Regions from separate parts of the Homo sapiens genome. Here region 1 is linked to region 2. Evidence: fine-mapped expression QTL. Tissue or cell type: whole blood. Region 2 holds a variant in brackets; the other region holds the start of a gene. All regions are shown on one strand. Distances are from middle to middle.

Region 1 (8,099 bases), 76 kb before region 2:
AATATGCCCTTTTACTTGGCCCTTTTTTTTTTTTTTTTTTGAGACAGGGTCTAGCTCTGTCGTCCAGGCTGGAGAGGAGTGCAGTGGCATGATTATAGCTCACTGCAGCCTTGAACTCCTTGGTTCAAGCAATCCTCCCACCTCAGCCTCCTGAGTAACTGTGGACTACAGGCATGGCCAGCAAGACAGGGGGGTCTGAAGTGTCTGAGCACGGCTGGAGCCCAAATACGTTCAATGTGTATTTAGTACATGCTGATGCATGCATCTATCCATTGCAGCTCTGTTTGTAAAAGCTAAATATGGGCTGCAGTGGCTGGGCGCAGTGGCTCACGCCTGTAATCCCAGCACTTTGGGAGACCGAGGCAGGCTGATCACAAGGTCAGGAGATCGAGACCATCCTGGCTAACACAGTGAAACCCCGTCTCTACTAAAAAAATATGAAAAAATTAGCCGGGTGTAGTGGTGGGTGCCTGTAGTCCCAGCTACTCAGGAGGCTGAGGCAGGAGAATGGCTTGAACTTGGGAGGCGGAGCTTGCAGTGAGCCGAGATCGCGCCACTGCACTCCAGCCTGGGCGACAGAGCAAGAATCCAACTCAAAAAAAAAAAAAGAAAGAAAAAAAAAATATGGGCTGCAGCTTAAACAGCCATCAGTAAGGGACTGGCCTTAGAATGCATATGTCTGCTCAATGCAAATTTACCAGTGGTTTAAAAGGGGTGGGGGATATATACCTCCCCCGACCCCTTTCTGCCACCCCAGTCATAGACTACCTCTGGAAGAAAACATAAGAAATTATCAACAGCAGGTGCATCTGAGGAGGAACGGGGTACAGGCTGGGGAAGACCTGACTGATTTCTACTATGTGACCTTTTGTACTGTTTGATTTTTTCTTTTTAACTATATAATAGGCCGGGTGTGGTGGCTCACGCCTGTAATCCCAGCATCTTGGGAGGCTGAGGCGAGCAGATCACTTGGGGTCAGGAGTGCGAGACCAGCCTAGCCAACATGGTGAAACCCCGTTTCTATTAAAAATACAAAAATTAGCTGGGTGTGGTGGCACATGCCTGTAATCCCAGCTACTCAGGAGGCTGAGGTAGGAGAACTGCATGAACCCAGGAGGCAGAGGTTGCCGTGAGCCGAGATCACACCACTGCACTCCAGCCTGGGCAACAGAGCAAGACTCCGTCTCAAAAAAAACCCAAAAACTATATACTCAATGATCTTGCCAAAGTTTATACACATGTACATATATAACACACACGAAATATGTATATATAAAATATGTATATAAACATATGAATATTATAGGTACATGTACATATGTGTACAACACACACACATATACATACATATATACATACATGCCCATATATGTTTTAAATGACTCCTATTGAAGTTGGACAGAAAACCCAAATGGCTTCAGTTTCCACAGGAGAAGCTGAAGGTGACATGACCCTCTGAAACATTCTGGTACCGTCTTTGCAGGGAGCGGTGGGAGGGGGTAAGAAACGCTCCAGGAGCCTTACAGGAAATGGCACGTTATTGCTTTTCAACAACAAAGCCACTGTCCTCCTTCTATGCTGCATGCTTGCAAATCAGACTCAAGGGAACTAAAAAATTCCAGAAGAATCATTCCTAGCACCACCCAGGCTCGTTTTGCAGGTTAGCTTTAAACAGCTGAAACATTAGTTTGCCTCACTCTAAAGAGTGTTTCCTTACTCTTTATCGGCTTCAAGGGCCCAGGGAGTGTCGGAGAGGGGTCCCGGGTCTGCAAGAGCTGGGAGCCCCGGCCCCGGCAACCCCCTCTCCGGCATCCTGCAGGAGGCACCCAAGATGATGAGCCCCCCTCCTCCGGCAGCGTCTCCACCGCCAGCCTGCCCCAGGACTCCGAGACACACGCTTGGCAGAGGGGCCGTCCCTTCCAGCTAAGCCTTTCCGGACCCAGTCAAAGTCACGACTCCTGCCAATCCCTCTGAGATAAACATAACAGATGGGCCCAAACGCGGTGGGTCCACAGCAGAGGGTCAGCGATGCCCAGGGTAGAATAGGCTCTGCCTCTAGCATTCAAGTGGTTTAGGTCTGTGGCTGGTAAAATGGAGATGATTCCGGTTTGGTCTGACAGATGGGATTATTCTAAGGTCCGGAAATCACTTTATAGACTGTCAAGCACTGTTAGAAATGAACACTGGGGTAAGCTTTTGTTTGGGGAGGGGAGGGTGCAGCGATCCTGAGATACCAAGGCTTGGGGGACTATTGGAGGACCTGGGGGATTCGGGGGGATTATTACAGAGGGTGTGCGAACACAGGTGCACGTGGAAGAAAGCCCAAGGTGGGAGAGAGAAAAGGGGGAGACAGAGGTGTGGGGCTGCCAGGGCAGAGGGCAGGTGCCAGGGGGAAGGTCCCTGAGAAGAGAGACACAGGTTGCTGGGGGAGTGGGCACGAGAGTAGCGAGCAGATACCTGGATATGAGGAAAGGCAGTGGGGGACGGGACTAGGTCCAGGTGTGAGTTGCGAGGCCATGAGTTAGGAGTCACAGGCTCAGGTGTGGGTGTGGGGGTGTCATCGACAAGGACAGACTCAGGTGATGTGGGGGGTGTTCGTGAGTGGGGGCGGGTGTTCGTGAGTGGGGGCGCGGTGTCAGGTGTGTGAGGGGGATGTCAGACCCAGCTGTGCGGGGCGCCGGGGACAAGGCCCCAGGGGTGTGGGAGATGTCAGCAAGGACAGTCTAAAGTGTATGGGGGATGTCAACGAAAAGGGACGTGGTGTCAGGCGTGCGTGGACTGCGGGTGACGGGCTCAAACCTGGATGCAGTAGCCCCCAGGGGGCAGTAGACGTGGAGTGTGGGGTTGGGGGGGGTCTTTAACCTCTTCCTGCCCTCGCGACGCTACTGTCATGCCCCGCCTCATCCGCCCCTCGCCCCGGGATCCATGACAGGACCCGTGCCTCACCTCAGTTCAGCCCGACAGGCGCGGGCCGCTGACGCTTGGGCCCCCCCGGCGCCCCCCGCGCCCCCTCACCGGCCCGGACGCGTCGCCGCCGCCGCTACCTCCAGCCGCCACGGCCCCGCCTCGCGCACCCCCAGAGCGCGCCACGGGAGGGGTCCACGCCACGCCCCGATTGGCTGCTCCCTGGCCAGTCAGCGCTGGAAGCGACAGTGATTGGCGAGTATGAAGCAGATGGGCAGCCCCTAAAGCCAATCGCTGATTGGCAGAGGTGGGGCTATTGGGAGAGGCCTGGGGTGCCTGAGTGGTCCCTCAGGGTGCTAGGCGCTGGGAGGCGAGGGCCTGGAGGCAGGCGAGGATTGGAATCTTGGCAGAAAACAGGCAGAACTGTCGGCCAATCGCTGGGGGCCAGGGGCGGGGCTACGAAGAAACTGGCGCTACCGGTGGGGCAGAGGCGAGAGGAACGGAGGGCGTAGCTTGGGGGGAGACCGGGATTGGCCGCAAAGCCGAAGACTGGCAGGCCCCGCGGCCAGTCGCAGCGGCCGTGGGCGGTACGCCCCCAGGGGAGGGCTGGAGCGTTCAAGGTGCAGTCCGACCCGGAGCGCGGCAACCCGACGTGGCCTCGGACGCCTGGCGCAGGGTCCCCTGAGGCTCTCGTGTAGAGCCCGCCCTCTGGCCACCTAGCACAGAAGCGGATGTGAACTTGGACCATCAAGGCTGAAGGACTCCTGGATAATTCTCTATCCCCTTACTCCCCACTAATCCCCTGCAGACGACACGGAGAGGGCAGATTCGCTGGAGGTCACTCTGAACTGCCCTCTCCATCTCGAGGTGGTGTGAAGACATGGAAATAAGGGGCGGAATCCTACTGAAACGCGCTGCGTGGTTTTCTGAGTGTCTGACCTCTCTGCGTCCCAGCTTTCCCCGCCACGGTATCCAGTGACATCCCTGTTGGGCCTTCTCCCTGCCAAGTCTTTTTTTGAATTAACTGAATCTTAACCACAATCCCATGAGGTCAGAGAGACCACTGGCTCCTTTTACAGAAACCAGAGCACAGAGAGGTCAAGCTCCTTGCCCAAGGTTACACAGCATTCTCTGGTTGCTAAACCAGAGAATGAATCTAGAGCAGCCTGCTTTTTGGAAAGAGTGTGTCAGAGAAGAGCCACTGGGGGCCTCAGAGACCTGGGTTTGAATCCTTGTCCAATCACTGGCCCACCACACAACCTTGGGCAAAAGCCCTTGTGAGCCTCAGCTGTTTCATTTGGAAAAGAGGGGGGAAAATGATTCCTATGCCTTGATCTTTCCTCTCTGGGGTTGCTTCCCTGGGAAAATTTACAACTCAGCTCTCATTTTAATTATCTGGTGAAAGCATTTGACCCTGAGCAGGTCATGTGCGGCCTGTGAGCCTCAGCTCCTCTGTGAAGTGCAGAAAAATGCCGGCAGTTTAGGGAGACACCTGCCATCCCAGGCATGGCTGTGTCATCGGCACCTCCCCCGAAGCCACTCTGTTCTATGACTCACCCTTCATCTTCAGGATGGAGAGGGCTACAAATGTTTCCAGATACCAGCTCTTATTTCCTCTAGGTGCTGGCCAGGGTTGGTGGAGATCAAGTTCAGAACCAGGGAATCCTGGGAGGGAGCAAGGCTGAAACCAACCTTAGAAAGGGCTCACATTTCAGGGCTGCACAAGCCCCTGCTAAGTGTGTGATCCACAAGTTTCAAATGGGGAGGATGTGACGGGAAATCACTAGCCCAAGGCCATCATCAAACTCCTGATATTCTCACGATATGCCTACCTGGACCTCCTCTCCCATACCTCCCACCTGTGGTTTGCTTCCTGGCAACTTCCAGGATCTGGCCTCCATTCTGCCCTCCAGAGAAGAGGGGGAAGCTGAGGTCAGTTGAACATCAATTGGGTGCCAGGTCCCCACTGGGCTTTCTCCAATACCATCTCCCCACCTCACTTCCAGGTGGACGTGACAGTGCCCACTTAGCAGATAAGAAAACTGAGCCTATGGTGGAGAATATTCCTTGGTGGAAGGACCCAGGGCTGAGTTTGAATCCCTGCTCTTTTTAACGTAAGTAATGGCCAGTAACAGCCACAGGACCTTCAGCAAATAACACAAGCTCCCCACTTCAGTTTCCCGGCTGTCTCCTAGGGCTGATGTGAGCATTGATGAAATGGAAGCAAAACACTTACAATGGCTTCGTCCACAGTAAGCACTCATGGAAGGCTGGTGATGATATATTGTTCTTCTCTGGGCCTGTTTCCCTCTCTGTAAATAGCGCTTCATGGACACAGACCAACTATGGGCGTGGCTTGCCACACCAAGAGGGAGATATCTACGCCGAGGAGCGCCCACTCCCAGTGCCCACCTGCCAGGCCCTGGGAGGGGGAGGTAACAAAGCTCCTGGAAGGTCCCACAGTGCCTCCAGGGACAGAGCCAACTAAGGCAAAGGTCAGGCTCTGGCCCAGCCTGGGGCTGCCTCTCTAGCTTCTGCTCGTTCTTTAGCAGGCTGGCGCCAGCCAACCTCCCTACCGCCTTCCAGCAATGGCAGGCAAAGCACCTTGGCAATAGCAATGGACACCCCCACCATGGGCACTCATGTAAGCCCAGCTAGGGTGCCCAGGATCTCGGCTCTTCTGCTTTGGCTGGCCAGCCCTGGACAGGACACTGCCTCTTCGCCCTCCAGTCTCCTCTACCTCTTGGGGATCCCAGGAATCATCTGTGAGCCAGGCCCTGGCACAGCGTCCAGGCCTAATCACCTGAGGCCCAAAGGCCTTTTGCCCAAGGTCAGGTTAACAGCTTTGGAAAAAGATGAGGGGCCTGGAGGCAGGCCAAGCTGTGGTCTCATCCCACCGCAGCCCCTCAAATGCCCATGAGTCTATTTCCTATCTGGAAAATGAGGTTTAGTCCAGCCTCTGGGAGATGTATGTTCACAACAGAAAAAATCTGTGTTCCTTTCCCAGGAGCCCAAGCCCATCCCTGGCTGGAGGGAGACATCCTGAACACAGCAGTGACAACAACCAAGCCTGGCTGGGGTCAGAGTGGCCTCATTCACCTCCCAAGGCTCAGATAAGTCAGGCCACTTCACCAAGAGCCTACAGTAGCAGAGGCGTGGCCTGAACACACTCGCACCATCCTTGCAGCAGGCTCCACCTCAGCCCAGGTCTCGATGTCATCAAGGAGGACAGCAAAAGCTACTTAAGAGAAGGCCAGGGCCGGGTGCGGTGGCTCACGCCTGTAATCCTAGCACTTTGGGAGGCCGAGGCGGGCGGATCACGAGGTCAGGAGATCAAGACCATCCTGGCTAACAAGGTGAAACCCCATCTCTACTAAAAATACAAAAAAATTAGCCGGGGGTGGTGGCAGGCGCCTGTAATCCCAGCTACTCAGGAGGCTGAGGCAGGAGAATGGTGTGAACCTGGGAGGCAGAGCTTGCAGTGAGCCGAGATGGCGCCACTGCACTCCAGCCTGGGTGACAGAAAAGGGAAGGCGACGGGGATGGGGGCTGGGGGGAGTTATGTTCTGGACATCCCCTGAAGCGCGCCTTTCTAGGGGCTGTGGCCCTCCAGTGTGCCAGATCTAGCCTGAGTTCAGATGAGAAGGCCGAGGCTCACAGACGGGAGGTGATATGCCTGAAGTGGCCGAGGGGGGATGGAAAGCCAGGCCATAACCCCAGGGAAATGTGAGATCTTTGGTGAGGGGCCCCCACCCAACCTGAGGCTGTCCAAACATGCTAGCTGCATCTACTGAAGACACCCACTTCCTTGGGCTAAGGTGGGAGGGACAGATAAGGCAGAACCACCCCTTCCTGAAGAAGCCTGCAGCTTGGCCCAGGCCCAGGGGAGGACGCTGGGGCCACCTGGCAGGGACCTCGAGTGCTTGTCAGTTTATTCAGGTGAACACTCAAAAACACTGACGGGAAGCTGAAGGCACAGCAAGTGGGGACAGGGGCCTCCCTGCAGGGAGCCAGCCGATGGTGGGGGCAAGACAAACAGGAGAGTTCACAAATGAGGTGACCTCAGATGGGGCCCAGTGTCAGAGCCAGAGCACATGAGGTGATGAGATGGGGGTCTCTCCTGGAGAAGGCAACGTGAGCTGAAACCTCATGTGCTAGGAGGAGCCGGCCACGGGGAAGGCCAAGGGAAGGGCACTTCTAGGCAGAGGGCATGGCTTGTCACATGGGGGCTTGTGCAAAGGCCCTGGGGTGGGGGAATAGGGAGTGAGTACAGTGGAAAGACTGGGAAATGGGCAAGGCCTGGGCCATACTGGGTCTGCAGGGCATGAAGTGCATTTTTTTGTTTGTTTGTTTGTTTTTGAGACAAGCTCTTGATCCGTCACCCAGGCTGGAGTGCAGTGGTGCCATCCTAACTCACTGCAGCCTTGACTCCTGGGCTCAAGTGATCTTCCCGCCTTAGCCCAAGTTGCTGGGACCACAGACAGGTTTGGTTTTATGTAGAAGGCAAAGGGGAGCCATGGGCAGACTGAGAGCAAGGCTGGAGCAGGAATGACAGGGCCAGCACTGCAGGCCGTCCTCGAAATAGCTCAGGAGCACCTACCCCGCCACATGACAGATGAAGAAATGCTTGAGAACTGCCCAAGGTCACACTGGCCCAGAAGTTAAGTCAGGGCAGTCTGGGGCAGATTCGAGATCTTTCTCCCACATCCTGGGAGTCTCCAGGGAGGAGGGATAGGGCGGGGTGACTGGGTCAGAGGTTTGGGCCAGCCCTGCTGAGCTGAGAGCACCCTTTCCTGCTGGGGGCAGGGGAGACGGGGACACCACGGAGAGGTGCAGCCAGGGTGACGCTCCTCAGCTGTTTGCATCGGCTGGATTCCACGGAAGCTGGGGGCCTGCTGGGAAAGGAGTGTCCCTGAGGTCAAGGACTGAGCCCAGGCCATCCTGGGGCTCGGGGAGGCACATGACAAGCAGGGGCGAGGGTCCAAGAGGGGAGAGGCCTCCAAGGTGTGGGCAGGAAGGCTAGGGCACACACCAGTGGTCATGAGGCTGCCCGGACCCCCGTGAGGCCACAAGAGATGCACAAGCCACCTAGTGACCACGGTGTGACCTCTGAGTGTGACTTCAGAGCAGAAGAGCTGGGGTCTGCAGGGCCACAGCTGTCTGGGCACCCCCAGAATGCTTGGGGTGGGGTGGTC
Region 2 (8,099 bases):
TGTGGCCACTGACCGCCCCCCACCTCCTGCCGCTCCTCCAAGTTTGAGCTGAGATGGTTCTGTGAGTCCTTGGCAGGGGTCAAAGGGCACATCTCCTTGAACCTAGAAAGCCCCCTACACTCTCAGAGGACACCTCTCCTGTGGATTCAGCGCTGGGGCAGTGAAGGTGTCGGGAGCCAGCAGAGCATGGTGCGTGCTGCCAGCTGCCGGCCAGCCGGGATAGAGGAGATGCCACTGGCCCTCCGTGCCCCCAGCCCCTCCCTCTTAACCGAGGCTGTCCTTGCTCTCTGCAGAGGCCGCTCTGCAGGATCCTCGTGTCGCGCGTGATGTGTGGTGGCACAGCCGTGTCAAAGTCACAGTGTCTTTTCTGTCGTTCTAGTTCCAGGGTCACCCCCGAGAGGACAACAGGCATCTGGAAGTGCTCTCTCGCCACTCTGGGTGCTTTACTGTCTCTGGCTTGTTTCCATCACTGGAAATCACTTAGAGAATTGTAGTGTTTTTGGTCCTTGATAAAGCCTAGAAGACATTTGTGATGTTACAAAATGGAAGTTTTCTTTTGTTTCTGTTTTTTAAGATCTAAGAAGTTGTGAATGTTGTTAATCATTTAGCCGTTGCAATAAATGTAGAGGAAATGCAGTGTGCTGGGGTCTCCATGGCTGTGTTTTTAAAATCAGATCAGACACCAGCGCACGCAGATGGGAGTGCAGTGTAGAACCAGATGATGGCTGCCTCCCAGGACGTGCCCTCCGCCGGCGTGGTGCTCCTCCCTCGGGCCCCTCCTCACTGGCTTGCCCCACCTGAGGGACCTTGTGTCACTGTCACCAGGAAAGCTTGGAAGATGCCAGAGAGCAGGAAGGGACCAAGCACCCACCAGAGGGAGGGCAATTCCCTTCTGGGGAGGCTGGGGAGGGTAATCGGTACCGCCAAGTACAGAAGCTGCCTTTGAGGGGTGTCAGGGCAGTGGGAGCTGTGCCCCTGCTGCCTACGACTCACCTGTCCCCACAGGGCTTTGCCCCATCATCCCAGGGCTGGGGTTCCAGCTGCCAGAGTAAAACCAGAGCCTGCCTGGGCCACCCTCTGACTGCAGAGCTGCCTCTCTGTCATCTTCACACTCCCTGCTGTCCCTGGGTGCTGCCAGCCTGCCCATGGTTCCTCTGTCAACAGCCCCTTGGCCCTCCAGGTGAGGAGGGGCGTGCAGAGGGCACAGCAGAGACCAAGGCAGCACCCAGGGGGCCTGCAGGGGCCTCTGCCTGACCAGGGTGAGGAGGGGAGGAGCCAGACTGCAGGGAGGGGGAAGGCACTGTGCCCAGGGCAGGTGATGCTCATGTAGAAAGGTCCCTGTGGGCAGCTTAGCGGGAGCCTTGAGACAGAGCCCTTAGGAAGCTGAGGCAGGACCCCCAGCCTCACTTCTACCGTGTCCCGGGGGAAGCTATTGCCAGCCAAGACCCTCACCCTGCCTTCATCTTAGCGATGTCTAACCGCTAGCTTCAGTGGCACTCCCTGAGAAAGGCCGGAGCCTGCAGGGAAAATGTGGGGCTCACCTGCAGGGGGTGAGGAACCACCAGGAATTTCTCTTCAGTAGTGGAACCCTTCTTCCCCTAGTTCCTCTTAATATCACCCTAAGGCCGGTCAGGGTGTCTTAGGAGGACAGGAGGAGTGGTGTCCAGCCCAGGATGCCTGTCCTGGCGTTGACCCAGGCAGGTCACTTGATCTCAGGCCTCAGTTTCCCCTCTACAGACTGGGAAGGATCTCATTTGGAAGGTAAAATCTCCCCTGCTGCCTTGTACTAGGTTGGTGCAAAAGTAATGGCAAAACCTTCAATTACTTTTCCACCAACCTAATAATTTAGGACTAAGTGGAACCACAAGATCCCTGTCATGGCCTTTCTCCTCCCTGGAGCTTCCTTGGGGCAAGACAGGCAGAAGGCGCTGCCAAGAAGCCCCAGTAGCAAAAGCAAGGTGTGGCTTCAGTCCAGGCCTTTGCTGTGCATGCATGCCCACGTACAGATGTGCGCGCATGCATGTTCAAGCAGCACGCGAGGACGTTTTCCTTGTAAAAGATGAAAAACCAAACCCAGATGTATGCGGAATGGAGCACAGAGGCTTTCTCCTCCCATAAGTCAAAACAAATGACAGGACACTCCAAGGGTGCCACTCGGAGACTGCCTTCCTCTCCCCACAGGCTGTCTCAGCAGTCTCCATGGCCCGTGGGAAAAGAGCAGGTATTGGGTTGGCTTCAGAGGATATTCCACATGTAAACAATCGTAGGCACAATCGTGTTTTAGATGGAACCTTTAAAATGCAAATTATACTTCAAGTTCTATTCTGCTCCCTGCTTTTTTTCACTTAAAAAATTTCTGAGGCTGGGCGCGGTGGCTCACGCCTGTAATCCCAGCACTTTGGGAGGTGGAGGTGGGCAGATCACCTGAGGTTGGGAGTTCAAGACCAGCCTGACCAACATGGAGAAACCTCATCTATACTAAAAATACAAAAGTTAGCCAGGCATGGTGGCGCATGCCTGTCATCCCAGCTACTCGGGAGGCTGAGGCAGGAGAATCGCTTGAACCCTGGAGGCAGAGGTTGCGTTTAGCCGAGATCGCGCCACTGCACTCCAGCCTGGGCAACAAGAGCGACCCTTGGTCTCAAAAAAAAAAAAAAAAAATTCTGAAGCCATGTGTGGCAGCCTGTGCTTGTAATCCCAGCTACTGGAGAGGCTGAGGTGGGAGGATCACTTGAGCCCAGGATTGGAGGCTGTGGTGAATTGAGATTGCATCACAGTACTCCAGCCTGGGCAACCCTATATCTAAAAATACAAACCTGAAATAAACTTACATATACACATGTATGTATGATGGCTTGTCATTTAGCTAACAGGTTCTCCACGCCTAGCCATTTGGGTTTGGGCCCTACATCCTAGAATGGGCTTCTTTGTGGACAAAGTCCAGGAAATAGCATATGAGAACAAAGGGTCCTCCTGAGGGTCTCCTCACCTTGCTGCCTCCCTCCACACAGTTCATGTGCCATCTAACTTTGGGGTGACCCTGCTGATGTCCCAATTCCCTAGTTTCCCTGCCTCTCCGGGACAGTGGGGGCTGTGGTTCCTGCAGGTGTCTCTGGCAGGCACTGGCCCTTAGGCTGGGCTCCAATGCCAGCTTCACCCCCCAAACCCTGACCTCTTGGGATATGGACCTGACTGCTGACTCTCTCTACCTCCTCCAGGTCCCTCAACTCTGTCCCTGTCACCCCCACCCTGTCA[C/T]CAGCCCCACCTCAACAGTGCAGGAGCCTGTGGTGGTTTGGGGTCACCGTGTTCCCTGAGGGGCCCAGCCAGGCCTCTATCTCCCCTGTGTCCACATACTACCCCAATGCCCACCCATGGTGGAGGGTGGTGTTTTGAGGGCCAGAGATGTGCCAGCAACAGGGACGCTATTACTGACCCTCTGCTCACAGTCAGTCCTCCCCGAGGTGGTCAAGCGGTGGGACCCTCCACGCCTGCATTTTCTCCAGTGAAATGTAGCCAACAGCTTGCAGGGTTAAATACATACGGTTACCCAGGACCTCTCTTAGAGGGTTCAGAGGGACTGGTCTTGTTACCGACTGATCCTTTCACATCCCACCCGCTTGGGCCTCAGTTTTCCCTCGTGAGGATCCCCAAGCCCTTCTCAGCTCCCCTTGCCCACCCCTCCCTGGCCAGCCTGAGGGTTGGGTGGCCCCCAAACTCTACCACATTCCATAGAGGAGCTATCCAGGGAAAGAGTGGTAAGTTGTCACAAGTCCCCCCATCCCCATATGTTTGGGGGATTAATCCCCCCCAAGGGTTTGGGGGATTAATCCCCATCATATGTTCGGGGGATTAAGGGCTGGGCAGAGGTAGGAGCCGGGGATGATTAATGAATGCTGGGGCTGCAGCCTAGGCAACATAGGGAGGCTCCACCTCTACAAAAAGAAACGTTTTTGTTAGCAGGGCATGATAGTCCCACCTGTAGTCCCAGCTCCTCGGGAGGCTGAGGTTGAAGGATTGCTTGAGCCAGGGAGCTGGAGGCTGCAGTGAGCTATGAATGCACCACTGCAGCCCAGCCTGGACGACAGAGCAAGACCCTGCCGCCAACCCCCAACACACACAAAAAAGAGAATTAAAGGAGCTCACAAAATTTCAGCCTCAAGGCCCACAGCACAGACCATATACTGAGATAAATCTGATCGTCATTGGCCTCTCTGGACTCCAGTGCTCTCATCCGGGGAGGATCAGCCCATTTCCCAATGGAAAAACTGAGGCCTGGGGCAGTCTGACTCCAGAGCTTGAATTCTAAACATCAGTATCCGGATTTCCAGTTGGTTTCATCTGATTTAGAAGCTCCCTATATACACACACTTGCGTACACATGGACACACCCTGTGCAACGCCATGTGCGAATGCGTGCACACATGCACATACATACACAGAGACATGCACACGTATGCACACAGACATACACACATGCATAGGTCTACACGGTGCTTCTATTTCCCACGAAGTCCATACTCATGGCCCTGAGAACTTTAACACTCAGGAATTGCGGCTCTGTAATGACTGGCACTATCCGCTTCCTTCACAGCCCAGGAGGGGGACCTCACGAGCTGAGCTTTTCTTGGCTGAATTTTTCTCCAGCGAATCCTCAGGTTGGACTCATGGGAGCACCAACTCCCAGTTCTTGCAGCTTGTGGCCAGGTGTGAAAAGGGGAGCGTTAGCCTCGAGATTTCAGCTTCCACGCCTTCATGACTTGCTTTTGCCAGGAGGAAAGCAAACCTTAAGAATTTGAATCCTCAGTCCTAACATGTCCTCTCTGTGCTGTGTAACCTGGGGCGGGTGATCCACATCTCTGAGTGTCAGCTTCCTCATTTGCAAATGGGGAGAACAGTAGCATCTACAGAAGGGTTCTTAGGAGCAGCACCCGCATGCTGTGAACTCAGACATCGCTGATCTGTTTCCATTGTTCTGTGTCAGTGGACCCAGTCCTTGAGGCATCCCATTGGCTGACTCCTCCTCCTTAAAACAAAGGCCAGGCGTGGTGGCTCACGCCTGTAATCCCAGCACTTTGGGAGGCCGAGGCAGGCAGATCACCTGAGGTCAGGAGTTCGAGACCAGCCTGGCCAACATGGTGAAACCTCGTCTCTACTAAAAATGCAAAAATTAGCTGGGTGTGGTGGTGCATGCCTGTAATCCCAGCTATTCCGGAGGCCGAAGCAGGAGAATCGCGTGAATCCAGGAGGCGGGGGTTGCAGTGAGCCGAGATCGCACCACTGTACTCCAGCCTGGGCTACAAAAGCAAAACTCTATCTATAAATAAATAAATGAAGTTTCCTGAGTCCTTACCTAGACCCCATGACATGATGAAAGGGCCTTGACTCCAGTGTCCTGGTCACAACGAGTGACTTTGGAAAATTCACTTCACTCCCTGAGGCCCCAGCATGCTCATCTTAAAATAAAGATGTTCCAAGCTGGGCGTGGTGGCTCACACCTGCAATCCCAGCACTTTAGGAGGGAGAGGAAAGAGCACTGCTTGAGGCCAGGAATTCAAGGCCAGCCTGGGCAACGTAACAAGACCCCATCTCTATTAAAAAAAAAAGAAACCCTAGCCGGGCATGGTGGCACATGCCTGTAGTCCCACCTACTTGGGAGGCTGAGGAGGAAGGATCACTTGAGCCCGGGAGGTCAAGGCTGCAGTGAGCTGTGATTGTACCACTGCACTCCAGCCTGGGTGACAGAGTATGACCTTGTCTCAAAAAAAATAAATCCATTTGCAAAGTGTAGCATCATTTTTGTAAAAATCTTGTAAAATGTAGACAAGCCCCCCGTATATGGCAATGTTGGGCTGTGTTTCAGCACAAAGATGGGTCTACTCCAAACCGGCCACGTGGTAGGGAAGCGTGTGGGGTCCGGGCAGGGGTGCCACCCCCCACCAACACCCAGCCATGTGCCTCCTTACAACCAGTTTGAAAGGAAAATCCACTGAAGAATGTTTAGAGGAAGTAAAAACAGCAAAGCACTTGCTGGCAGCAATTGTCGGCCTTTGTTTCGGAGGCAGCTGTGGTCTTAGGAGAAAAAAGGATCAGATTTGAACCAAGACAGTTTCTTCCTGTGTCAAATGGGGAAATAAGCCTGGCTTCCTCCCAGGGCCATTGTTCAAAGGCTGCTGTGAAAAACCCTCTGACATCTCCTTGGCAGAGGCTCTGATCGGCTTTTTACATCTTGTCTGTTCACTCATTCATTCATTCATTCATTCACCACACATTTTTATTTGTTGGTTTTCGTTTTGAGACAGGGTCTTACTCTGTCGCCCAGGCTGGAGTGTAGTGGTGCCATCTCGGCTTACTGCAACCTCCACCTCCAAGATTCACGCAATCCTCCCACCTCAGCCTCCTGAGTAGCCGGGACTATGGGCACGCGCCACCATGCCCAGCTAATTTTTGTATTTTTTAGTAGAGAGGGGCTTTTGTCATGGTGCGGTGGCTCATGCTTGTAATCCCAGCACTTTGGGAGGCCAAGGCAGACGGATCGCTTGAGGTCAGGAGTTTGAGACCAGCCTGGGCAAGACGGCAAAATTCCGTTTGTACTAAAAATACAAAAATTAGCCAGGCATGGTGGTACACACACATAGTTCCAGCTACTCGGGAGGCTGAGGCGAGAAGATCACTTGAACCCGGAAAGTGGAGGTTGCAGCGAGCCGGGATGGCGTCACTGCACTCCAGCCTGAGTGACAGAGTAAGACTCTGTCTCAAAAACAAACAAAAAATTTATCATCATTATCATTATTATTTTTAAGACGGCATCTCACTCTGTAGCCCAGGCTGGAGTACAGTGGCATGATCATAGCTCTCTGCAGCCTTGACCTCCTGGGCTGAAATGATCCTCCAGCCTTAGCCTCCTGAGTAGCTGGGACTACAGGCATGTATCACCATGCCTGGCCTGATTTACACCTTTTAAAAGAGCAGTCTGGAAGGGCAGGGCAGGAATGAAAGCAATTCTGAACTGTTCCATCTATACCCCTCGGTTCCAGCCCCATTTAATGGCAGGCACCTGTGCAGGGTATCAGGGCTACCCTGGGCTGCTGGAGCACCCTTTGCCTGAATGCCCACTGGAACCAGAAGTGCCTGGAATTGACATTCCCCAGGGTAACCCTGACAGCTGACGAGGGTGGGGTGTGAATAACCTAGCCAAAAGACACAGAGACATAGACCCCGTGTGCTGGCCAGCTATTTGGTAAAACAACCATTCTCTGGCAGTTGTCTGAAATGTGGCCTTAGACAACGTTGTAGGCTCCGTCTCAGCCCCGAACCCCATGGAGGTCACTTGCAAGGAACCCAGAGCAAACCTGTCCTTTCTGGCTTGGACGTCCCACCTGCCTACTCTAGAGCCTTTGACAGTTTCCCTGTTTCAGTCCAGAGATGTTCACCCTCTCCTTTCTGGCTCTCCACGTTCTTGGCAGGTTGTTGCAAGAGGCAGAGATGTCTGGGAGCAACTAAGTCCCTCAGAACGCAGAAAACCTTCTTCTTCTTCTTCTTCTTTTTTTTTTTTTTTTTTTTTTTTTTTTTTTTTTGAGACAGAGTCTCACTCTGTTGCCCAGGCTGGTGGAGTACAGCAGCTCAATCTGGGCTCACTGCAACCCCCTGTAACCCCCACCTCCCAGTTTCAAGCAATTATTTTGCCTCAGCCTCCCAAGTAGCTAGGACTACAGGCAGGCACCACCATACCTGGCTAATTTTTGTATTTTTAGTAGAGATGGGGTTTCACCATGTTGCTCAGGCTGGTCTTGAACTCCTGACCTCAGATGATCCATCCGCCTCTGCCTCCCAAAGTGTTGGGATTACAGGCATGAACCACTGCACCTGGCCAGAAAACCTTCTTTTATCCAAGTCCAAGTAAGCAGGAGTCCAGGGTGGGCACCCGGGGGGCATCCCTAGATAGCACTGGATATCTTATAGCGCCAGGCATGGCAAAGAACGCTTGGCACCTGTGCTCCTTTCACCTTAGGCAACCACAGCTCCCTTTACAGACGAGGAAACTGAGGCCCAGAGACGTTGGTTAACAACTCTCTGGGGCAGGCAGGTGGGACGTCCAAGCC

Evidence for each region. PIP is the estimated chance that this variant, and not a neighbour inherited with it, causes the effect.
Region 1: SLC25A42 starts here. The variant in region 2 is fine-mapped to the expression of SLC25A42 in whole blood (TOPMed, PIP above 0.99).

The regions. Positions count from the first base shown.
Region 1 is chr19:19,058,963-19,067,061 of GRCh38, reverse strand. It overlaps SLC25A42 (solute carrier family 25 member 42), which reads right to left and starts at 3,068. Exons shown (of 8, transcript NM_178526.5): 1 at 2,947-3,068. It overlaps LOC124904655 (a long non-coding RNA gene), which reads left to right and starts at 3,537. Exons shown (of 3, transcript XR_007067160.1): 1 at 3,537-3,872; 2 at 4,911-5,018; 3 at 5,912-6,236. RefSeq lists silencers at 2,897-3,166, 3,427-3,596.
Region 2 is chr19:18,983,430-18,991,528 of GRCh38, reverse strand. It overlaps SUGP2 (SURP and G-patch domain containing 2), which reads left to right. Exons shown (of 11, transcript NM_001017392.5): 11 at 1-636. Among named protein-coding and RNA genes, the nearest start is that of SUGP2, 46 kb to the left of the region's middle. RefSeq lists an enhancer at 1,142-1,642. The variant C/T (reference allele first, on the strand shown) is at 3,256.